7 linked regions of the Homo sapiens genome follow. The protein of the gene in region 5 purifies or fractionates together with the protein of the main gene of each other region. This does not show direct contact. Each region holds a gene or a part of one and is shown on either strand. Other genes may lie near its edges.

Region 1 (3,500 bases), on a different chromosome or scaffold from region 5:
GTTCCACTCATCCTCCCCACCCACCCCTCCAAATCTTCAGAAGTATCTACAAAAAGTACAAAATCCTTAGGTCTTATATGGGAATCAGTGAAGTTTTGGCTGAGTTCTGATGGATAAAATAGAGTTAGCCCACACAGAAGAGAGAAGAGTTGACACCAGAGTTCTGTAAGTAATAATACCAGTTTTAAAGATAAAGAAACTAGGGCCAGCAGGAATAAATAACATGCCCAGAGCCACAGAATGAATGAGGGTCAGAGCAGGAATCAAACACAGGTCTGCCCTACATCACAGCCTACTAAGCTCCTTCTACTGCAATGCCTCTCAGAAAACAGGCAATAATTCACATGACAGGCAGGAAACAGAAATGGCAGAAATACATACGTACTGCCCTAAACAAATACGTGTACTTAAGCTGGGCATATACATAATAAACCCTTTTGTCCATCCTAGCCAGGCCCCGTACCTGTCATTACCTCTGATTTCGTTCAATTAGTTCACTAATCTTGTCATTCTGTTCTTCTATCCGATTGCTCTTTTCAAGGATCTCTTGCTTCAATCTTTCATTTTCCTAATTTCAAAATATATGATGTACAATTTAAGTGTCTTGGGAGAAAAGTGCCAGATAGAAGAGAATCAACTTGAACTGACAGGTGACATTGTTAACATGTTTTGAGACAAAACACTAGAACTTATGTCCACATGTATGTTAAAACAACACATCAGATTACACCTGATGGATACAAATCACTAGGTCCAATGGATTGAGTGAATAAATGGCTAAAAAAAGAAGTGAAATTCTGAAGTATGGTCAAAAAAGCAATGTTTCCTTCAGAATATATAGTGATAAGTCACTTGGACAGAATTAAGCCATAATGGATTTTCTAGAATTGTCTAACCCAGTGTAGCGTTTATCACAGGCTATTTCTGGGGTGGAGGTGTTAAAGAGTAGTACCTCTGAGAAGAGAGGATGGGTAAGACCTTCAGCCTGAGTGGTATGTTCTTAATCACCCTCACCTGAATGATTCGCTGGATGTTGCTCATAATCATGCTTGTTTCCATTGTAACTGACATGCTAGGAATAAGCATGGAATTGCCAGCACTATGTTTCTGTAACTCTTCAACCTACAAAAGGGATACCAGAAAGACCTTGTGAGAAATTATAAAATGAAGAAATACAATTTACCCAAGATTTGACCCTGTTGTTAAGGGGGTTAATGAGTTCCTGGGACAATCTCTAACTGTTAAGTTAGAGTTTTCTCCTACTAACTGGATCCCAACATAATTATAACTATCCTTGTAGGGAAATAACCTCTCACTACTACCAATGCAGGAAATCAAAGAAGAGTTTACCTACAGTTCTGGCTGCTCCCTGTTTACATCCCCACTTTCAACATCACCCCAACTCTGACTCAGTCACCTTAGTCATGAGATGATCCATTTTATCAGCCACTTTGCTGACTGCCATTCGAATTTCAGTGTTATGTTGCCGGGCTTCAGTCATGAGAAATGAAGCCATATCACCTGATCCTAAACAGATACAAGCCAAAAAGAAACTTATGAAACTGGAGCAGAGGAAACTGTATGAAGAAAAGCTAGTAGCTCTTCCAGTAAAGAAAGAAATTAATACTTCCATACACTAGGAAATGCTATAGGTGACTTCACCCTGTCAGGAGAAGATATATGGGAGAGAGTAGAGGCAAAAGGGCTTCAAAGTAAACAATAACTAAGCCGTGTTCCTGCAAAATGCATCAAGGGCTACATCTGGTCCAAGGGCACAAATATGCCCACTTTGCACTGCCACAGCACCGGCAGCTCAGATTACTTTCCCGTTCATCCAACTGTATGCCAAGCATTGTACCAGGTACCAGGAATACAGCAGTAAACAAAACACGGCTTCTGCCCTTGGTGAGCTCTCAGTCTGGCTGGGAGACTGACATGTAAACAAATCATTACAAGAGAGTGTATTAAGTGCAAAACAATGGACCATATACTAGGTATAAAAGTAGCACAGAGAAAAGCACGATTAACTCTTTGGTGACACGCGTACACAGTTGTGTTTGTGGGAAGAGAGGAAAGAGGGACAGAGAATAGTCAGGGAAGGCTTCACAGAGGGAGATGACAGTTTTGATGGATGAAAAAGCGTATCCCAGATGGAGAAGGGCAGAGCTTCCAGATAAAGGCTGCATTCAGGAAATCCTGACCAGTCCAGAACCACAAATTATGTTGCAGGACATACTGGCTTCTTCCTACCACTGTCCTAATACCAAAGCTGATTACTAAACAGAAGACTAATAGCAGAACAAGGCAGGATTCCATCATAGCAGTTTACACTTTATCTTGGTTTGATTTTTTTACATTAGATACTCACATTTGTACATGCATACAAAATATCTGAAAAGTTACCCAAGTAACTGTTAACAACAGTTTCCCAAGGTCAGGGGGTTTATGGAGGGGAAGGACAGTAACTTCACTTTACACCCTTTTGTACTGCTTGACTTTTTTATAAAAGTCTCTTATTTTCATAATTTAAAAATGTTAACAGAGTAGCTTTCATTAGAGATACTAAACACCTATAGTATTCAACTTTCTCCCAATTTCCTCCAATGTTTTGCTCTTTTACTATTTTCTCTAAACTCTAGCTACTCTAACAGAGGAATTAAAAGGGCCAGGGGAGAAAATCCAAGGAAAAAAACACAGAATGTGGACACAAGGAAACATTGGGGGATGACGGAAATGTTCTAAAATAGGATTGTAGTGATGAATGCACAACTCTGCAAATTTACTAAAACACTTTTGAATTGCACATTTAAAATGAATGAATGTGTGGAATACATATTATATCTCAACAAAGCTGTTAAAAAAGAGAAGAAACAATGAGTAGAGAGCTGTTGGTGTGAAAATGAAGGAGGAGCAAGAAGAGGGAAAGCACAGCAAGAGCGGAAGATGAGAAACTGAGGGAATTACTCCCTACCTTGGAAATGGGGAGGCTGAGAGAGCGGTGCTGGGTACAAAGGCCGAACGGGCTGCAGCTGGGAGGTGACGGCAGATGCCTGGGGATAAGCGTAGGCTTGCATACCTGCATAGGGCTGAGAAACTGACGAGTTACCACTGGTTGATAAAACATTCATGTCTTTCTTTTTTGTTCACATTTTTCTTTGGTGGAATAAAGTGGATGAGCTGGGAGGAGACTCAAACTTACTGAAGCTAGAGATGGGTGAGATCTGGGTTTGGCAGTTGGTAAGGACTGCAGCAGGAGAGTTATCTATGTATCCCAGGGGAAACCAGTCACTAAAATCCTACCCAGAAACTGAAGAAAGTGTATCTTAGGTCACTACCCAGTCATCTGGTGAGATAATTAAGCAGGGATTCATTCCCCATTATCAGGCCTATTGTCTAAGAAGTTTTTAGATTAATAAACTCTGCTTAGCTTCCATTGAGTTTAAAGAAGAAGTGCTCACTGAGATTCCAAACCAAATCTGCCAATTTCCAAGGATGCCTCT
Region 2 (3,500 bases), on a different chromosome or scaffold from region 5:
GTGAGATGCTGCGGCAGCTGTGTGGGTGGGGGTGGTCCCTCACGTCCTCTCCCCCATTCCTCTCCTTCTTGCAAAAGGCCTGGGGGATGTAGGAGAAGAGGGGAGACGGGGAGAGATGGAGAGAGAGACAGGGAGAGACAGACACAGAGACAAGACAGGGAGAGCAGAGAGAGAAGGGGAGGTGGGGAGAGGCAGGCGGGCACAGAGACAGAGAAACAGATTATCAGAAACAGAGACACAGAGATGAGAAACACGAGGTGGAGTGGGGAGATTCAGAAAAGACAAAGAGGGAGATGGACAGAAGGGGCTGTAGGGATGCGAGCTCTGGAGGGGGACCCTCCTTTCAGGACAGCGCCCTGGCCCCCAGGTGCCCCACTCACCTTCCTGGGCGGGAACCTCAAGTGCAGCCAGGCTGGGGGACAGAGTTCCCCCCAAGCTGAGACAGGAGGGGTCTCAGGCGGCAAAATTCCTCCTCCAACTCCTGGTGGGGTGGGGGTCATGGATGAGGGGGGCCCCTTCCTTCCCCAGCCCACTCAGGGCACCCCTGGCCCGTCCCGCCCCACCTCCAGCTGCTTCATGGTCTCCTCCAAGCTGAGCAGGTTCTCCTGGATTTCCTGGGTCCGTGCTGGGCTCAGGGGGCCGCCCCCTGGGACCCCATCCCCATCTCGAGGAGGCCCCGCCCCATTGTCTTCCTCCGCCGGAAACAGAAGCTGCTTCAGGGACAGCACTGGCCAGGGGCAAGGAGGGGTGGAGTCAGGAGACCAGGGGGCTGGGCTGGGATCTGGGATGGGGGATTCCAAAGGGGATGTGTAGGGGCTGGAGGTGAAGGTGGGTGCCAGGCAAGGCTGAGCAGATGGGGTTCGGGGATCCAAAGGGAGGTGAAGAAGTGAGGCTGGGTTTAGGGTTGGGACAGGGCAGGAAGGTACTGAAGACAGAGATGTGTTCAGGAAGAGGCTAAATATAGAATCAAGCAAGGGATGGTGGCTGCAGAAGAGGGACGTGGGCACCCAGGACAGTGGTGCAGGCTGGGTGGGTTTGGAGCATTTGTTTTCTGGCAGCTGGGCGTAAGGAAATTTTTGACGTGGAGAGCCTTGTTCTAGTTGGAACAGAGGCACTGTTTGGGCTGGTGGCCACCCTGGAGGGGCAGAGCTGGGCTACCTTTCCGAAGGGCCGTGGCAGCGAGCTGGCCCTCGGGGCCTGGTCTGCAGAAGGGCAGGAGGTCACTGAGGATTCTCTCGGTCCGGGCTGGATTGGGGAACAGAGAGGGAGCTCAGATCCTGCCGGGCCTCCTGTGGATGCCTCTCTTCACCCGGCAGCCCCAACCTGGCCCCTCACCCAGCATCCCTCTGGTCTCACCATCAGCTGGAGACGTCTCTCGGCCACCATTGCCGTTCTCAGAGCTGCTGAGGAGGGGTTCTCGGGTGCTGAGGGGAGGAAGTGCTGGGTGACCCCACACCCCTGGCCCTGGGGGGCCGCAGGGGCAGGGAGACAGAGAGCTGGAGGTGGGGAGGCAGGGAGGTCCGGAGACAGAGACAGAGGTCGAGGCCGGGAGACAGGGAGACAGAGAGGCCCAGACAATGGAAGACACAGAGGCCTGGAGACAGGAGACAGACGGGGCAGTGGTGGGGTCGGCACATGCGCACACACACACACATGCATGCACATGCTGTCACACGCATGCACACATATGCATACACACACACCATACACGCACACACATGCACACGCACACATGCATGCATACACACACTATATATGCACGCACAGTCACATACTTGCGTACAGACACACATGTATGCACACACATGCATTCACACATGTGCATGCTCACACAGAGACGGTTCTGGAGTTGTGGAGGGAAGCCTGCCCCGCCTTCCGGCCCCACTCCCTGAACCTCCAGCTCTCTCCATGGCCCCCCTCACCTGCTCGGGCTGGGCCGGGGCTTAGGGCGAGAGGCAGGGGCAGGGACTTTCAGGGATCCGGCAGTCTCAGTGATGAGAGCACACCAGCTGGGGAGAAAGGCCAAATCCCTGGGCAGTCAGAGCCCCCAGACCCTATGCCAGGGCCTCCCCACAGCCCTCCTGTCCCTGGGAACCCAGAAACCTGGGCGTCCTCCACCCACACTCAGAACTCAGACCCCCCCTCACTTTTTCCGCTCCGACACAGTCTGTGCCACCAGCTCGTATATCTGGGCCTCCTGGTCCCAGGTAAAAAGGACGTAGAAGGCTTTGTGATCTGCAGGGAGAGGGGGAGATGGGGCTCAGAGCCCAGGTCCCCCCAGTGCCTGCCCCTCCCTAAGCACAAGCTGGAGAAGTCACCCACAGTGGTGGCGCTCTCAGGGCTCCCATGGCTCAACTCACCACTCACTGTCTGCTAATATCCAGGGCCCGATGTGTCCTCCTGAGCCCCACCTCTCACACCTCCTTATGGAATCGGGCATGTACCCTGGCTTACCTAACGAAACCCCTCCAGCCACTCCCACCCTCCAGCCGCTTCCAGTGTTTGTGGCCCTGGTGCAACTTCCTAGTAGTATGTTTACAAATCCCTCCTCACTGGACTCCTGGCCTTTCTTCTCCTTGTTTACACAAGACACGCCTCTGTGCAAACACCTGCAGCAGTTCCTACCTCACTTATAAACCCTCTAGGCCTGGCCCCGCCCTGCCCACCTCCACCTACTTCTCAACCTCTTTGCTAGAATGCTGGCTCCCTGGCTCTCTAGAGGGTTCTGCTCCCCACTCCACAGGCAGCTCTGCCCAAAAAAGACACCCTCTGCCCTGGGCCATGCAGTGGCTGCACTCACCGGTGGCCACCTCGCGGGTCATGGCGGAGGTGAGCCGCAGCACGGGCCGCAGCATGGTCTTGCCATCGGGCGTGGGCGTCAGTGTCCGGCTATGGGACTTGAGCAGCAGCCGCTCGTCCTGGCGCTGGAGCAGCAGCAGCAGGTCGTCCAGCAGCAGCACATGCACCTCTACGGGGCGAGCAGTGCTCACACGGCGTGCCCCCGCGCGACCCCCTCCCCGCCCTTGGCTCACTGCCCCAACACCCTGCACTAGGCAGCTGCTCTGGCACTCACCCACTGCCTTGTCCTTAGTCACCCGCCACGTCAGTGGGCCCTCGTGGACCAATTTCTTCTTGGTGATGTCCAGGTTCTGGGGCAGGAGGGGGTGATGGTTTGTGCAGGTTGGCAGGGGGTGATTGGGGTTGGTGGGGAGGGGAAGGGCAGGGCAGTGGCCGGGGATGACCACAGGCTGGGGATCATGGGATTGGCATGAGGTGGGGGACAGAGCTCTCGCTTCCTGGGTGTATTATGGGATGGGCAGGACAGGCTGGGGGCTGTATCACAGAATCCCCTGGGCCAAGGAGTAGGGGGGCGGGGGAGGCAGGAGGGTATGGTCACACCTTGAACTCGCTCAGCATAGGGTCGCTGCTCTGCCGAAGGTGGGACAAGTCCAGGCGCCGCTGATAGTCCTTGAGCCTCTGGGGCAGAGACGGGAGCATTA
Region 3 (2,600 bases), on a different chromosome or scaffold from region 5:
TAAAATCCCCCAGCAATGACAAACTGAACTTGGCTGTATTGTGGGGGAAAGGATGGAAAAAGTAAATTCAATTATATATCAATGACAGGATCTTATTTAAATGTGTAATTAAAATCTCTACTTCTTAATGACATACTGGACCTAATTATGGATTTGCTATCTACATTATTAATTAATTCACATACTGACACATGTAAGAAAAGCCTAATATTGCCCAATCCAAATGACAGGAATCCAAGTTAAGTAGGATTTTAGAATTGTGTTATGTAGGTGTTGGACAATAAATGACAATGGCTGTGGGTGTTTGCTGACAGCCCTGGGGAAAGTGTTTATACTACCTAGACAAGTATGTACACAGGAAAGAAGAGCTTTCCTTTTAAAAAGTGAATACACATCTCTCTACACAAGTGGTTCTCTCATAAAAAATCCAGTTCACAGAAAGGCTTGGGAACCAAAAGCTTAATCATAAAAGGATTTCCAGAGGAAAAAAGCAAAGAATATGTAATTTCCAATTATATTTTTCTAAATCGTAATTTACAGATGCATCAGCTCAGATCCAAGCTCCTCTTGGATCCTAACATTAGAGGTAAAAACTGGGGAAAATTTTCTAGAAGACACAAAATTAGGATGTACTAAGAAGTGTCTGAAGAGAATCAATTCCAGCTTCCACAAAATACTTAAAACTAAGAGCTAGAACTTCCCCTAGCCTACCAGCAGAGCAGGTCACTTGTTAATCTGGACTGTATAGATGAACTTCAGAGGGTCTATGAACCCCTTGAAATTACACTCACAATTCTGTGCTTATGGAATGAGAAATTTCCTGAAGTCAATCTATAGCTATCAGCTGATTCATAAAAGGATCCAAGAACCAAAAAAGATTAAGAGCTGCTCCTCTATCTGAGCAACACAAGTAAGACAGCAACTGATGACCCACAGCTATTTAATACACAGCAAAAATGTGGACAGCTTTCACAGCCTCAAAAGACATTCAAAAGATAAACAACAAACATGTAAATATATTTAAATTTGTTTTTACTAAAAACAAATATTTTTACTGGAAGCTAACAGATCAAATCAAATACCTTTAGGAAAATCTAAAGCAATGTTTAAATATTCCTTCCTGCCTAAAACCTAAGAGGATTTTCTGATCTACCATGCTACAAATTTCTACAAGAATGCACCTCTATAGAAGGAAATGCAGCCTAAGCCCTTTGTAAAGAACTCCACAGCAATAATATTACTAATCAAATCTATTGCTTTTATTGTTTTTAAGTAAGTGGTGGTATATGTCATCTTTTTAAATGTTTCTTTTGGGAAGATCTTATAGAAAATGGCACCCTGAAACTTTCAGCTCTATGTCCCAAAAATTATCTTTCAACAATCTGATGAAGTTTCTTAAAGAAACTCTTAAAAATGAAGATAATATACCTGGCCTAAATCAAAACAATCTGAAAAATGGATGTGTCCCAGTGGAAAGACTCAAGTCTTTTCAAGTTTATCAGAAATGCCACTATACACCACTGTACTATAAGTCGAGGAGGATGGATATCCAAAGGTATCATTTGTTGACAGTTCCTGATGGTCTCAGGTATATCCTATAATCACTGGTTACTATGCATCATTTCTTGTAGATAAATGGTATTCATGTGATAAGCTGCCATCCAACTTGGATGTCTCTGAGCATTCCAATAATATGAATGAGAAGCGGCAGCATAATATTCTTGCCATGCCCTGTAGTAAGCTCTCCAGTACTCCTCATAATCCTGATAGGTATCAGAAAAACTCAGACGTATTTCCCTATGACAGTCATACCAATCATCTTCCTGGGCTTCAGTCTGCAATCTGAAGGAAGACCGCCTGGGTAGGTTTCTCCGGCTCTGCTTAGCTCTCTGGCTAGCCCCCTCTTTAAGTCTTGTCTTCATCTGGATTCCAGGTGATTCTTGATATTTCTCTGGATTGGGGGTGTCACTTCCATTTGGTGGTTGTTCCAAAGAAATACGATCATCCACAGGCGTAGATTCAGAGTCTTTCAGCTGATTATCAGAAGAGCCTTCCAAGTATGACTTATTTCCTTTGCTCTGGGAAGAGGTTCTTGAGCTGTAAGAATCACTGTCACTCTCAGAGTCTCCAGATTGGCTACTACTTGCCAACACAGGGACTCTCTGTTCAATAACTTTATTTCTCACAAAACCATTTTGAGGATTCACAGTCTGATCCCCAGGGCCTGTGTAGTGCCTGATGATTTCCACAGGTTTCTCTAACCCCTCTTTAATATAATGTTCATAATCCTCTACCAATTCAGCAAAAGTCAACGTGTATGGCTGATGGATTTTAAAGGAAGACAGACAAGGAATCTGGGGGAGTGACACAGGTAAAGCTTCTTTGACCTGGTGCTGACTGTTGGTGGAGTTTTCAACGGGAGTCTGAACAGAATTCTTCATTTGCTCTTCGGATTGCCTGTCACAGCCCAGTTCTTTTGGTGACGTTGCTTTTTCTATGATTCCACATTCTGAGTGGCTTTTCACAGGAAGCTTTTGTTTGGTATTATTTTTTGATTTGACTGATAGTCCAGATACAGAATTATTTCTAGAGGAAGCCAT
Region 4 (3,500 bases), on a different chromosome or scaffold from region 5:
GTGACCCAACAAACAGAGCAAATTTTAATTTTAAGCCTGTTATTATAGTTCCTATATACCTACAATTTTTAAATTAATGGAAATGGCTTTCAGGGCAAGGGTCACCATGGCAGCCACCTTGGTTAGGCTTGGGCTCTTGTCTGTCAAGCAGGTTCAGGTTCAATTCTACCCCTTTGAGAAGTAGAGATGATGAGGACCTTCCTCTAGATGATGAGTAATGAGAAGGTCCACTCCACCAATCTCAACTGCTCAGCTATTGTGGACATGAGGTGGACATGCAGCATAATGACTTCGAGCCCTGTGTGGACATGCTGTTCAGAGATGCTGTGTGGTCATCGCCTCATTATGTGCTGCACCCATCTCACCACTCTGGAAATGCTCACTGTCTTTGCCTCCCACATTGAGGCCAGAGATGTGGCAAGGAGCCAAGAATGTGCTGGTACTGGACAATGACAGTGCCAAAAAGACCAACAAGCTGATGTTAGACTGGACTAGAACACTTATCTAAAAAGAGGTTTACTTAATCATTCAAATCACTATCTGGAGGGCCACAGAGTAAGGCCCTCTAAATGCTTGGCAAGACCAAGATATCATAATTAGGAAGCTTACTTATGGGGGTGGGAAGCTGAAAGTCCTGTGAACACAATGTTTCTGGGTCAAGGCAAGATTATGGGGGTGTCTGGATGAACCTGAATTTATTTTACTTTCTTATGTCAATCACTGCTTATCCCTTCCAGTATGACTTCTCCCAGTGCTCACTCGAGGTACCTCTTCACTCTTATTTACCAAATCCAGTTGGAAAGAATACTGTCAGAGTGAGTGCTGTTTTCTCCGTCCTAATCTTTCTATCTCAGTAGCATTTGCCACTCTTAATTCATTCATGCCTTGGAAACTTTTTCCCTCTTGGGTCCTTTTTCTTTAAAACACACACCTGGGTGTGTGTTTTAATCTGATCGCTAAAGGAGAGTACTTCTAGCTGGTGAAGGAAATACTTTCATTAGGGGCTTTGCAAGGCTCCAAGTATATATATACACCATCATTTTGGTAACCATAAGGCTTTGCAGTTTATGGGATCTATTAGGAAGATGCTCCCAGAGGGGTCAAATGTTCCCAGCAGTGGCATGGCAGAGCACCAATGATGGCAGATGCTCAGATAGAAGGAATGCACAGAGGCACCCAAACTGTGGACATACTCTTGAATACAAGAAACACCTAGAGACTAACAGAAATAATTGTAGGGGAAGGGGTGTTTTACAGGAGATGAAGGGGTGTGAACTGGAGAGATATGAGAATTAATGAAGTTGTGTTCTCTTTCATACCAATAGGCTGTGCATACACTGTGTGCTTGGCACTATGCTAGGCACTAGATAAAGAGACATGGTTTCAATTATCAAGGAACTCAGTCTTGTAATCAGGGCAAATGTAGGAAAGCAGACAATGAATAGAACCTCCCAGAACATTTTTGTGTTTCAATTTTTAAAGTAGAGATTTTTCATTAGAGTTTGAAATAGTTAATTAAATTTTCTTGGGCTGGTTTGATCCAATTCCTCCCTACTTCTCTATTTTAGATGGAAATTGAGGCCCACCCATAGAGGTTAAGTGAGGTTTCCAAAATCAGTGACAAGGTGGCTAGAAGCACGAAAGGGAAAGGCCATATCTAACACTCACAATCACTCTTTTCCATTACATCATAATACCTCTTTTTTTTTTTTTTTTTTTTTTTTTTGATGGAGTTTTGCTCTGTTGCCCAGGCTGGAGTGCAATGGCGCGATCTCGGCTCACTGCAACCTCCGCCTCCTGGGTTCAAGCTATTCTCCTGCCTCAGCCTCCTGAGTAGCTGGGATTACAGACATGCACCACCACACCTGGCTAATTTTGTATTTTTAATAGAGACAGGGTTTCACCGTGTTGGTCAGGCTGGTCTCTAACTCCTGACCTCAGATGATCTGACCGCCTTGGCCTCCCAAAGTACTGGGATTACGAGCGTGAGCCATCATGCCCAGCCCATAATACCTCATTTATAATCCACTAAATGGATGTCTCTACTCTGGTTTTTCATTCATACCTATATGGAAAAGAAAAGTATAGTGAAAAAAGCATGGCTACATAATCAGAAAAACCTGGGATCTGAATTTTCTGACAAATTTACACTACTTTGTTTAGCATTAAGCCTGGTCGTAATAAAACAGCTAAGTGTTCTGGAAGAAATTATGATAAATCAGTACTACTAACAAGACTGGACATGTGAGTTTGCACCTGCTTATTAGGCTTTATGCTCCTGTCCTAGGATTTCTTTTTCTTTTCTTTTTTCTTTTTTTTTTTTTTTGAGATGGAGTCTTGCTCTGTCACCCAGGCTGGAGTGCAGTGGCACAATCTCGGCTCACTGCAAACTCTGCCTCCCGGGTTCACACCATTCTCCTGCCTCAGCCTCCCGATTAGCTGGGACTACAGGCACCTGCCACCACGCCCGGCTAATTTTTTTGTATTTTTAGTAGAGACGGTGTTTCACTGCGTTAGCCAGGATCTCGATCTCCTGAGGTCAGGTCTCGATCTCCTGACCTCGTGATCCACCCGCCTCGGCCTCCCAAAGTGCTGGGATTACAGGCATGAACCACCGCGCCCGGGCTTTCTTTTCTTTTTTTTTTTTTTTGAGACGGAGTTTCGCTCCTGTTGCCCAGGCTGGAGTGCAATGGCGTGATCTCGGGTCACCGCAACCTCCGCCTCCCAGGTTCCAGCGATTCTCCTGCCTCAGCCTACTGAGTAGCTGGGATTACAGGCATGTGCCACTGCGCCCAGCTAATTTTTGTATTTTTAGTAGAGATGGGGTTTCTCCATGTTGGTCAGGCTGGTCTCAAACTCCCGACCTCAGATGATGCACCTGCCTCGGCCTCCCAGAGTGTTGGGGTCACAGGCGTGAGCCACTGGGCCCGGCCTGTCCTAGGATGTCTTAACAGATTATATGAATACCTCTCAGCAAAACTAACTGAAAAGTGAAGATGGAAGAATGACAGTTTTAATATTAATTGATGACTTGTTAGAAAACAGCCACACCAAACAATCTTTAGGGCTTGCTTTATCCTACAATGGTAACTAGTAAATTAAGGAGGTAATACATAATCAAGGATCCAGTTTAAAAGCATAAATATTTGGCAGGTGCAGTGACTCACGCCTGCAATCTCGGCACTTTGGGAGGCCAAGGCAGGCGGATCACGAGGTCAGGAGTTTGAGACTAGCCTGACCAACATATTGAAACCCTGTCTCTACTAAAAATACAAAAAATTAGCCGGGTGTGGTGGCAGGTGCCTGTAATCCCAGCTACTTGGGATGCTGAGGCAGGAGAATCACTTGAACTCAGGAGGTGGAGGTTGCAGTGAGCCGAGATCGTACCACTGCACTCCAGCCCGCTGGGAGACAGTGCAAGACTTCGTTTCAAAAAAAAAAAAAAAAAGTATAAAATATTTTTCATGTGCTCTAACAAAGCCCTCATATTTCATCTATTT
Region 5 (3,500 bases):
ATTTTTTAAAGAGGTAGGGTCTCTCTGTGTTGCCCAGGATAGCCTCTAACTCCTGGGCTCAAGTGATCCTCCTGCCTCAGCCTCCTGTGTAGCTGGGACTACAAGCATGTACGCCATGCCTGGCTTCTTTCTTTTATTTTTATCCCTCATTTTGAAAATATTTTTACAATTTAGTTAATATTCTTATATGAGATCTGCTCAGGGATTTTTTATTCCCTTCAAGAGGAAGGGACACTTTGATAGGCTATTGCTATTGTGAACTGGACTATTAAAATGCTTACTTTAAAAGCTTTTCCTGTTGTACTTATTATCCCACAAAATATTATTTTTATTTTACAATCTAACATGTGACCAGATTCAGTTATTTACTTGAGAAGAATTGAGCATGGATTTTGGTATAGCAAATACTGAGTTTTAAATTTTCACTCTGGTTATGAATAAATGATTTTTTTTTAACAGATCAAGAAGTTGGTATATGTTTACCTGGTTCGATATGCTGAAGAACAGCAGGATCTTGCACTCCTGTCCATAAGCACTTTTCAGCGAGCTCTGAAGGTAAATAATGGAGTGAGTAGGCAAATAGCTACAAGGTTTCTGCAGAGTTGAAAGTGTGTCAGTTAAAGAAGTGGAGCGATAATCCACTAAATAGCACAGTAGTGTCTTGAAAGAGTTAAAAGCCTCCTATAGTGCCTACTCAGTACACTTAGAAAATAATTTATACAACCAACTGAAACCTTGCTGTATATGTTACAGCTTCTGTATGTTTGTTTATATTCAATATAATTATTTTCATGCTTCAAAGAGCTGTTTATCATTATACTAGTTGTTGAAAGTACGCAAAAGGGGTTATAAGACATTTTTAAACATGAAATTGATGACCTGCAGCATTTTATTATTATGAAAGTATAAAAACCCAGCATATTTAGTAATAAATGACCAACTAGAATTATAACTATTACTTTTCTTTAAAACATTATTAAAGAAGTAAACATTTATGTCTGTCTTTTTTTCCCATTCCTATATACTAATTGTTCATTTTAAATTAAGTAGCTTTCTTTTGCTATTGTCATATTACACCCTTTAAGCACCTATTAACTGTGTCTGAAAGATATGTTTAAAATATTGTAAAGTTGAAATTTTGGTGAATATTTTTGCACTATTTTTAGGACCCAAACCAACTAATTCGTGCAAGCGCTTTGAGAGTTCTGTCAAGTATTAGAGTGCCAATTATTGTACCTATCATGATGCTTGCTATTAAGGAAGCTTCTGCTGACTTATCACCATATGTTAGGAAGAATGCAGCCCATGCAATACAAAAATTATACAGGTAGGTGCATTGTTAACAATATACCAAAGATCTCTGATGTTACATGGAATGTTATAGACCACAGAGGCTTGTTTTATTCGCTCTTTTAGGTAGGCTGCTCTTACACTAAGTAAATCCAGTGACTGTATGATGGTATTTCCCCCTGCTGCAAATGTTCCTTACACATCTTTAATTTCGTTTTGGCTATAGAGACCCTATGCAGGTTTTTATTTGTGAGGCTGTTAGAGCCTGTGATAATTTATAGATTTTATAACTTAAGAATAATCAGAATTTGAATTCTCATTTATATAGTCTATCTCATGTACACATATGCTTGTATTATTAGAAAATTGAGATTTTTTTTTCCTGTTTAGGGTAGAATCTTAAGTGTCTGATCCTCTCAACTCACTTATATGTGTTTTCCTTTCTTCCATCTTTGTTCCTGCTGCTCCCTTCGTTGTCTAATTCTTTTCCAGAGCTATTTTATTAAGTAATTTTAAAAAGTGTAGTGATTTGAAATATAGTGTGCTATACCATATCTGTGTGATATTTTAGAAATGTTATGCAATATTATACAATGCCCTGATCTCTGTGGAAAATTTACTGTCCAAATAGAATTGTCTACAACAATTTGGTATTATTTTCAGCTATCATTTATTCCTCAAGCTTTTTGAGACTCTCTTCTGTTTCTGGTGTTGTATTCACAGTATTGTGCTATGTGTATTTAGATGTATGAAAACAGTAGAGGATGTGGCACTTAATTATGAATAGCATATCATGTATTTGAGGAAGAAGATCAAAGACATACCAAATAATTAAAGGCAATCTATAATGAATAAGATATTAGCACTTGATATATATGTATATACAAAGGTACACTAGCAATGTCTTTGATAGGACAGGGACCAGAGATGATCATATTTTGTTACCGGAAAGTAAAGATGTAATGAGATGGGATTGGTAGTGAAATACTGCTTTGAGAAGGAAGACTTAAGCTGAAATTTGAAAGAATTAAAAAGTTTGTCCAGATAATTATAATGTTTAGTAATAAATGTGTATGTTTGTAGAAAGTGAAACCTCATATTCCTATGTTAACTGCCAGACAAGGTTTTATCATGCTTCTCACTCACCTTTTCTCCTTAGAAACTTATGGGATAAGATCCATGCTCACTCTAACGGCTTAAAAGTCCTTCTATCATTGGGCACCAGTATATTCCAGCCTCAATGCTTGCCTCTCCTTGCCTTGAGCTTATAGTCTGTTAGTATTCTATCTCAAATGTTTTAAGCTTATTACTACCTCTTATTTTTCCTAGTTTTAGTTGGCAGATTTTATAATGCATGTCTCTATCAGTGAACTAGTATGATATAAAATTCTTATTTGGAAATTCTCCATATTTGTTTTTGGGAAGTATGTATGCATAGTAAAATAATGACTGCTATCTAGTTATTTTTTTCCTCCCAGTTGAAAAGAGTTTGTGGTTTATCTACTTACAGTCGCTTTCTTGAAGTTTTCCAACTCTTTTAGAAGTGAACTTGTTCTTTCAGTACTATCTTAACTAAACCATTGATATCTGGTTTAGTTAATATGAACAATATTAGAGGGAAAGATGAGGACACATTCATGAGAAAAACCATCCCATTTTATTTGTTTTTCTTTATTTCTAACTTATAATTCTTGCTCTCCTTTCCCTCTTTAAAAATTTCTCAACATCCTTGAATTGGTGAGCATCATGTAAAGCTAGAATTAAAGGGAAAAATTAATATGTTATTTTTGTATTTTTTAGCCTTGATCCAGAGCAGAAGGAAATGTTAATTGAAGTAATTGAAAAACTTCTGAAAGATAAAAGCACAGTAAGTAATGTCTTTTTACGTCTTTGACATAAAAATGTACTTTATTTACATAGTATCATTTACCATTATATATTTTATATAGTTGTATTTATTGATTTCAAAATGGTATAAATATTAATGGCACACAGGACTATTTTTAAAGAACAAAAATTTTCATGTAATGAGAAAGACTGCATTTGGAGTTTTAGATCGTTATGTGTTTCTTCATCAGAATCTGAAAAAAGGCAAGTTGAGAAAAAAATCTTTAACCTGTGGCTAAGTGGTTAACATGGTAAGATCAAGGAATAGAGGTGACCTATGGGGGATGTGAGTTACTAGTGTACTAGTATCTTAGATGGGGCTT
Region 6 (3,500 bases), on a different chromosome or scaffold from region 5:
TATCAGAGAGACAACTGTAATAGAAAACTCAATGTTTATTTTAGTATATTTATGTATATATGTTCTATTATTTTAAACAGCCTGTAAACCTAAGCCTCTCCTCTTATCTAAAAATCATCCGTCCTCCTCTCATTGCCTTTGCATTTTCACTAAACTCCCCTCTGTGTATTTATCTTGCTTTTTAGGTATTTACTTGTGTGAGTAGTTTATGTTTTTTCATATGTCCTGAGCTCTCTGCCTTACCCACCATGCCTTGACTATAAAGAAATGATAGCTAACTTTGGCCAGGTGTGGTGGTTCACGCCTGTAATCCCAGCACTTTGCAAGGCCGAGGCAGGTGGATCATAAGGTCAGGAGATCGAGACCATCCTGGCCAACATGGTGAAACCCCGTATCTACTAAAAAAAATATAAAAATTAGCTGGGCATGGTGGCGTGTGCCTGAAGTCCCAGCTACTCGGGACGCTGAGGCAGGGGAATTGCTTGAACCCAGGAGGCAGAGTTTGCAGTGAGCCGAGATCGTGCCACTACACTCCAGCCTGGCAAGAGAGCGAGACTCCATCTCAAAAAAAAAAAAAAAAGAATTGATAGCTAACATTAATTGAGCTCTTGCTATGTTCCAGATGCATTAAAAGCTTTTTAACATATTAATCCCTTTCATCTTTAAGCCAGATGAAATGGGTACCACTGTAATCTTCACTGTATAGAGGAGGAAACAGAAACTCAGAACAGTGAAGCAATCTGAGTAGAGTCACACAGCCTCTAAGTGGCCGAAGCCAAAATCTAAACCTGGGTTAAGAGCCACCGAACACATGAGCATCACCCACATCTGGAGAACTTCAGTGCATACATTTTCCCCATGCTTGATTTTCAAATCACCAAGTACTTTTAATTAACCTTCACTATTGTTATGATTTGACATTTGTTGTTCTATATATACAACTAATATCTGCCCCATACCATGCCAGAACATAAGAATACAACACCTAGTATTTTATAGATGAGTAATAGCAGCTGCCATTTATTAAGCTTTTGCCATGTGCCAGGCACTGCATCTTATTATTTAATACTCAGAAAGATCTATGGGGTACCTACCAATTTATTTCCACTTTAGAGATGAGGAAAGTGAGGCAGAGAGAGGTTAGATGACTTGCCCAAGATCACACAGCTAGTAAATGGTGAAGCCAGGATTTAAACTCAATGGCTGAACTCCAAAGCTTGGCTCTGAATGAGTGAAGAGATGTGTTCCTAGAAATCTAGCTTGGAGAGTCAAGAAAAGTAATAGGGAGGAGATGACATTTGACATATCTGGAAGGGCAAAGTGGGAAAGAAAGGAAACAATACACTCAAGGGAGACAACAACATGGATAAAGTACTGAGGAATGGTGTACCTGCAGCATAACAGGTGCTCAAAAATGCAAATGAAAAAAATGAATATCTTTATAGCCCATGAGTTAAAAGGTTTTCCACATCTAAGTGTTGTATGACTAGTGCTCTCTGTGTGTTTCTTTCAGTGCCACCGTGGGCCTTAATTGCAATAGCCATAGTCGCAGTCCTTTTAGTCCTGACCTGCTGCTTTTGTATCTGTAAGAAATGTTTGTTCAAAAAGAAAAACAAGAAGAAGGGAAAGGAAAAAGGAGGGAAGAATGCCATTAACATGAAAGATGTAAAAGACTTAGGGAAGACGATGAAAGATCAGGTAATGTATTCTTTCTACATTTCTTCTTATTTTGTTTAAAAAAGATAAACAAATGTATTATTTTATGCCATATAATTACAGAAATAAACAACTTCTGGACCCATATCGTTTTTGAGATGCTTTGCAAACCTTTCAGTCATTGTTCAAGATCCCAAAGCATAATGGAAGCATTTGGCAGGGTTTTCCAATCTCCTGAGCATATAGAACAGAAAAGGGCATCCATGATCATCAGGCCCATCTTGATGGGTTTGGCATATGAGAATGATGCCTGAATATTTTGATTACATCTGTTTAACCAGTCTTCATTGCGTTTAGAGTTAGAAAAATCAGATAAAAAGTGCCTGAGTGTTTTGCATTTGGGCAGGGGATCTTTCTAATTTCTACTGTTCATAGTCACTGTTAAATAACTGAGTTTTACGGCTGTTCATCAAACTGGATGAAAGCTGCTTTTCCTACATGTCCATCCAGCTGAAAAATTAATTCTCAAGAATAATGAGTTACATGGGAGAAGGGAGAGAAATATGAGCCAGTTCTAAAGAACACGACAGGATAGAATTTTTGCCTTATGAAAAAGTTTTCTTTCTTATTTCTTATAAGACAAAATTCTCATTTCAATTTAATAAGGACAATTACAACCATAACACTGGTTATAAAATCCATCTGGCTGGGTTATCTTTCCAAGCCCAAAAAAGCTATTTGGATGTTCTTTATGTTGCTATCTGTTTTTGGCTAAATTAATTGGACAACTTGGTTCAAGATAATGTTTACTATTATTAATGATAATTATTAAATGCCTCTTCATTTTTGAAATAATATCCATGTTGAATATCTCTAAAGAATATTTAATTCATATTTTAAAATTAAAATGTAAATGTACAGATTTTTTATAGAATTAACATTTTCAATTATCAATGTTTTCATCAAATACAAAAGTTTTATTTATTCCCAAATAGCAAAATATATAAGCAGTTTTATAAATTCCTCTTATACTATTAATTACTATTAATCAAACTCTTAAACCTGAATCTCCTTAAGAACAATTTAATCAGGTGTTACAACAGGCATTTTAAGTACATTTGCGTTGTTTCCTAGTTCATTACACATTCAGGGACATTAACTCCCCTTCCCAGCTTCAGTTTTAAACTCTTTTTCCTCAAAGACACTATAGTATCTATTGATAATAATTTCACAAAGGCTCATGTTTTACTCCCTGCATTTTTGTTCTGTTTTGGAGCTATGGAATGGATGAAATGCCTGTACTCATACTCAGAGAGTTTTGGCCTGAGCTCGGAGTAGCAAGGGTTTGATTTTTCTGGCAATTTCTAATCACAGTCACAAAAGCCAATGCATAAACGTTCAACTACAGGTGTCTAATAAAGATTTTTCTCTTCAGTTAATTTAAGTAGAAACTAAAATTTCCAGGCATGTCTTACTTTATTTCCACACTTTTCATAGCAAGCAGGACTTGATAAAGATTTCTTTAAACAACTTATTGGGAGATTAAGTGTGGAAATAACCTCCTAGATGGACATGGACTGAATAATATGTATGTTAATTTTATCAATATTGTGAAAACAATAATTTGACAATAGATCACTATCTTTTTCATAATTATCATAAAATTTGAATGTGGTTTCCCTGTGTTCTAGAACTAATTAAAATTACTGAATAATGTTAAGTGATAACGATAGCATTTCTTCCTAGGACAATAAATCTATAATATTTGTGGGATTTGTTCTGTATGATGTAAAATTATAATTTACAGCATAGTGGTGGTGTTTATTACCCCTGTTATGACCTGG
Region 7 (3,500 bases), on a different chromosome or scaffold from region 5:
AACGCCTGAGGAGGACCAGGTATACAGGGAAACTGGGTGCTGCCACTGCTTAAATGGAAACTTATAGTCAAGCCCTAAGAACACACTAGAGTCTTAGAATTACCCTGGGACTTGGCAGTGTTAATTGGTATTCTTGCTAAGATGGGGGATTTGTTCTTCTAATTAGGATTTCCTCCTCGATGGAAAGATAGAAGGCTCTCAGCAACCATGTAATCCAATCACCTGTTTAGAACAAAACCTGATTTTTTTAATGTAAAGTTTTTGTTGTTGTTTTGTTTTTGCTTTTGTTTTTGTTTTGAGACGGAGTCTCGCTCTGTCGCCCAGGTTCGAGTGTAATGGCATGATCTCGGCTCACTGCAACCTCCGCCTCCCAGATTCAAGTGATTCTCCTGTCTCAGCCTCCTGAGTAGCTGGGATTACAGGCATGCACCACCACGCCCAGCTAATTTTTGTATTTTTAGTAGAGATGGGGGTGTCACCATGTTGTTCAGGCTGGTCTCGAACCCGCCTCGGCCTCCTAAAGTGCTGGGATTACAGGCGTGAGCCACCGTGCCCAGCTGGAAAGTATTTTCAAACATACAGTAAAGTTAGAAGAATTTAACACTTAATACCAACATACTCAACACTTAGCACTAACACCACCTATCACTAACACTTCAGAAGTTTTTTTTTTTTTTTTGGTTCCTTCTTGAGGGCTAGAAAGCCCTTTCTCACATATTGTAAGTAAGTAGAGCAGGTATTATTATACTCATTTTACAAAGAAGGAAACCAAGGTTCTGAGCCACTTAGTAGATTCACGTACAAGTTTAGTGCCAAGCCGGTTTCCTGACCTTAGCTATAAATGGTTTTTGTCTAGTGAGCTTTAAAAATAGTAATGTTTGGGTCCCATTCCTGAGAGTTTGATTTTGATGTAATTGGTCTGTGAGGAAACTGACTAGGTATTGGAATTGGTTTTTTGTTTTTTGTGGGTTTTTTTTTGAGACAGTCTCACTCTGTCACCCAGGCTGGAGTGCAGTGGCGTGGTCTTGGCTCACTACAACCTCCGCCTCCTGGGGTCAAGTTATTCTCCTGCCTCAGCCTCCTGAGTAGCTGGGGCTATATGCACACACTACCATGCCCAGCTGATTTTTGCATTTTTAGTAGAGATGGGGTTTCGTCACGTTGGCCAGGCTGGTCTCGAACTCCTGGCCTCAACTGATCCGCCCGCCTTGGCCTCCGAAAGTACATTGGAATTTAAAAGTTCCATACATGGTCTTTATATGTGTGCAAGGCTGAGAACTCCTGCACTGGTGCTTAAAAATGGTTGTTGAATGACTGCTGAGTAATATTTTAGTATGCCTGATTTGGGTGTCTTGAGTAAGCCAGAGAGTTGGGAGAGAAGAGAAGAGTGCTTGGTATCTTGACAAACCCTCCTACCTTTTCTCCTAACTACATAGATCTTGAAAAAGCCACTACCGCCTGAGCCAGCAGCAGCACCAGTCTCCACAAGTGAGCTGAAAAAGGTTGTGGCCCTTTATGATTACATGCCAATGAATGCAAATGATCTACAGCTGCGGAAGGGTGATGAATATTTTATCTTGGAGGAAAGCAACTTACCATGGTGGAGAGCACGAGATAAAAATGGGTGAGTCCACACCAGCCCTTCCTGAGCCTGGTGCCTGCCCACTCCCTACACGCAAAAAGTGCTGCGGCATAATTCCCGTGATCAGCATCCTCATCAGAGACTGTTCTTCCCACACCAGACTGAACATGCTCTCCCTCCAAGTACTTCCCAGCGTGCAGCTCCCTATACATGGCCTCTGCCACATCTCTGAGCCTCTGTTGTTGGGCACATATAACCAATGCAACATGTGCATAAGCTCTGCACCTCACTGGCTCACTGCCTAACCATGCATCAGAGACATGATTGTCTTTGAGGGAGGTGCATGATACATATACCTCCATTTGAGATTTGTTCTGAGCTCAGGGACGTGGGCATATGAATCTGTCTCCTGGAGGCTGGGGAGGTGCTGGATGAACTGCCACATTGTTTCCTTCACAGGCAGGAAGGCTACATTCCTAGTAACTATGTCACTGAAGCAGAAGACTCCATAGAAATGTATGAGTAAGTATGTTTATGTCAGTCCACAATCTTCCAGGAGGAACTCTCTCTCTCTATATATATATATATTTATTTATTTATATATATTTTATATATATTTATATATATATATAACACACACAAGTGTATATATGTATACATATGTATACATACACTGGTGTATATATAGGTATATTATGTATACATACACAAGTGTGTATATATATATATACACTTTTTTCTACTTTCAACATATTTTTTATTTCAAGATATATATTAAAATTAGTACCATCTGAATCAAATGATGCCACCACCTCAAATTAGTGTATCTGTCTTACCTTTACCCCCCAAACACCCTCCATTTATGAGAGCTGGAGAGGTCACCATGCCCTCAAATCCAGAAGAATCACACTCAAAGAAAAAGGAGTTGACGACCTGATGAAAGAATTAAAATGTCAAACTGCTACTGTTGTCCTTTCCTCCCTAATCATGGAAGTGGATTGTTCTCAAGTGCCCTAGTCCCTGATCTCTTCCCTGCAACTCCCTGCTGCTTGCCTTTGCCTGCTACTCTCCATTTCCATGAATCTTCAATGCCAACCTGGGTTTGGGAAAGGGATACAGTGTGCTATGCACATGACAGATGCTCAGTAAATAGGGTTTGAGTGAGTTGACTGAATCACTGACATGGACAAGCCCTGGAGGGTGCTGTAACCTCCAATCTGCTTATGACCAGGAGCCACTCAAGCAGCACTCTCCCTTCACAGGTGGTATTCCAAACACATGACTCGGAGTCAGGCTGAGCAACTGCTAAAGCAAGAGGTAAGTGTGGAACCACTAGCACACAGCATTCTCCTTGCATAAGTGAGGATCTTGAACTGAGGGCCTGTTCTGCCCCCTACCTTTGGGCAAGGCAGTGTCAAAGCTGCCATCGTCTGGGATCCCAATTACACCATTTTTTTTGTTTTTGTTTTTCTGAGACGGACTCTCGGTCTGTCACCCAGGCTGGAGTGCAGTGGCGTGATCTGGGCTCACTGCAACCTCCGCCTTCTGGGTTCAAGTAATTCTCCTACCTCAGCCTCCCAAGTAGCTGGGATTACAGGCACATGCCACCACGCCCGACTAATTTTTGTATTTTTAGCAGAGACGGGGTTTCACCATGTTGGCCAGGCTGGTCTCGAACTCCTGACCTCAGGTGATCCGCCCACCTCGGCCTCCCAAAATGCTGGGATTACAGGCATGAGCCACCATGCCCGGCCTGCACCTTTTAATATTAAAAGCAATGAGGCTGTAGCTCAAGCGTGGAACTTGGCAGTAAAATCAGGGGTTGTTCTATTTTCTCTCTCAAGTTTGGGCAGGTGGGATGCAGGTGTGAGCACCACTTCCTCCTACAGACAGCTTCTTTTTCGTTGTTTCAGGGGAA

Evidence for each region.
Region 1: the proteins of AP3B1 (region 5) and FKBP15 fractionate together in Homo sapiens (co-fractionation; one large-scale study listed by BioGRID). This does not show direct contact.
Region 2: the proteins of AP3B1 (region 5) and ARHGEF1 fractionate together in Homo sapiens (co-fractionation; one large-scale study listed by BioGRID). This does not show direct contact.
Region 3: the proteins of AP3B1 (region 5) and DDX20 purify together in Homo sapiens (affinity purification with mass spectrometry, with the first as the bait; one large-scale study listed by BioGRID). This does not show direct contact.
Region 4: the proteins of AP3B1 (region 5) and CAPZA1 fractionate together in Homo sapiens (co-fractionation; one large-scale study listed by BioGRID). This does not show direct contact.
Region 6: the proteins of AP3B1 (region 5) and SYT1 purify together in Homo sapiens (co-immunoprecipitation; one large-scale study listed by IntAct). This does not show direct contact.
Region 7: the proteins of AP3B1 (region 5) and BTK purify together in Homo sapiens (co-immunoprecipitation; one large-scale study listed by IntAct). This does not show direct contact.

What each region holds. Positions count from the first base shown.
Region 1 is NC_000009.12:113,183,278-113,186,777, forward strand, and holds part of FKBP15 (FK506-binding protein 15), read right to left. Parts: intron 3,087-3,500; coding exon 2,972-3,086; intron 1,528-2,971; coding exon 1,418-1,527; intron 1,123-1,417; coding exon 1,015-1,122; intron 569-1,014; coding exon 474-568; intron 1-473. UniProt on the Homo sapiens protein: May be involved in the cytoskeletal organization of neuronal growth cones. Seems to be inactive as a PPIase. Involved in the transport of early endosomes at the level of transition between microfilament-based and microtubule-based movement.
Region 2 is NC_000019.10:41,903,684-41,907,183, reverse strand, and holds part of ARHGEF1 (rho guanine nucleotide exchange factor 1), read right to left. Parts: exon of another isoform or gene 3,478-3,500; coding exon 3,400-3,477; exon of another isoform or gene 3,398-3,399; intron 3,150-3,397; coding exon 3,074-3,149; intron 2,969-3,073; coding exon 2,801-2,968; intron 2,236-2,800; coding exon 2,148-2,235; intron 2,010-2,147; coding exon 1,923-2,009; intron 1,425-1,922; coding exon 1,357-1,424; intron 1,246-1,356; coding exon 1,159-1,245; intron 728-1,158; coding exon 564-727; intron 482-563; coding exon 398-481; coding exon of another isoform or gene 381-397; exon of another isoform or gene 376-380; intron 80-375; coding exon of another isoform or gene 1-79. UniProt on the Homo sapiens protein: Seems to play a role in the regulation of RhoA GTPase by guanine nucleotide-binding alpha-12 (GNA12) and alpha-13 (GNA13) subunits. Acts as a GTPase-activating protein (GAP) for GNA12 and GNA13, and as guanine nucleotide exchange factor (GEF) for RhoA GTPase.
Region 3 is NC_000001.11:111,765,901-111,768,500, reverse strand, and holds the end of DDX20 (probable ATP-dependent RNA helicase DDX20), read right to left. Parts: coding exon 1,602-2,600; 3' UTR 501-1,601; downstream 1-500.
Region 4 is NC_000001.11:112,622,832-112,626,331, reverse strand, and holds part of CAPZA1 (F-actin-capping protein subunit alpha-1), read right to left. Parts: intron 1-3,500. UniProt on the Homo sapiens protein: F-actin-capping proteins bind in a Ca(2+)-independent manner to the fast growing ends of actin filaments (barbed end) thereby blocking the exchange of subunits at these ends.
Region 5 is NC_000005.10:78,225,199-78,228,698, reverse strand, and holds part of AP3B1 (AP-3 complex subunit beta-1), read left to right. Parts: intron 1-459; coding exon 460-555; intron 556-1,166; coding exon 1,167-1,327; intron 1,328-3,090; coding exon 3,091-3,157; intron 3,158-3,500. UniProt on the Homo sapiens protein: Subunit of non-clathrin- and clathrin-associated adaptor protein complex 3 (AP-3) that plays a role in protein sorting in the late-Golgi/trans-Golgi network (TGN) and/or endosomes.
Region 6 is NC_000012.12:79,284,274-79,287,773, forward strand, and holds part of SYT1 (synaptotagmin-1), read left to right. Parts: intron 1-1,513; coding exon 1,514-1,698; intron 1,699-3,500. UniProt on the Homo sapiens protein: Calcium sensor that participates in triggering neurotransmitter release at the synapse. May have a regulatory role in the membrane interactions during trafficking of synaptic vesicles at the active zone of the synapse.
Region 7 is NC_000023.11:101,358,692-101,362,191, reverse strand, and holds part of BTK (tyrosine-protein kinase BTK), read left to right. Parts: coding exon 1-19; intron 20-1,436; coding exon 1,437-1,624; intron 1,625-2,041; coding exon 2,042-2,104; intron 2,105-2,844; coding exon 2,845-2,899; intron 2,900-3,495; coding exon 3,496-3,500. UniProt on the Homo sapiens protein: Non-receptor tyrosine kinase indispensable for B lymphocyte development, differentiation and signaling. Binding of antigen to the B-cell antigen receptor (BCR) triggers signaling that ultimately leads to B-cell activation.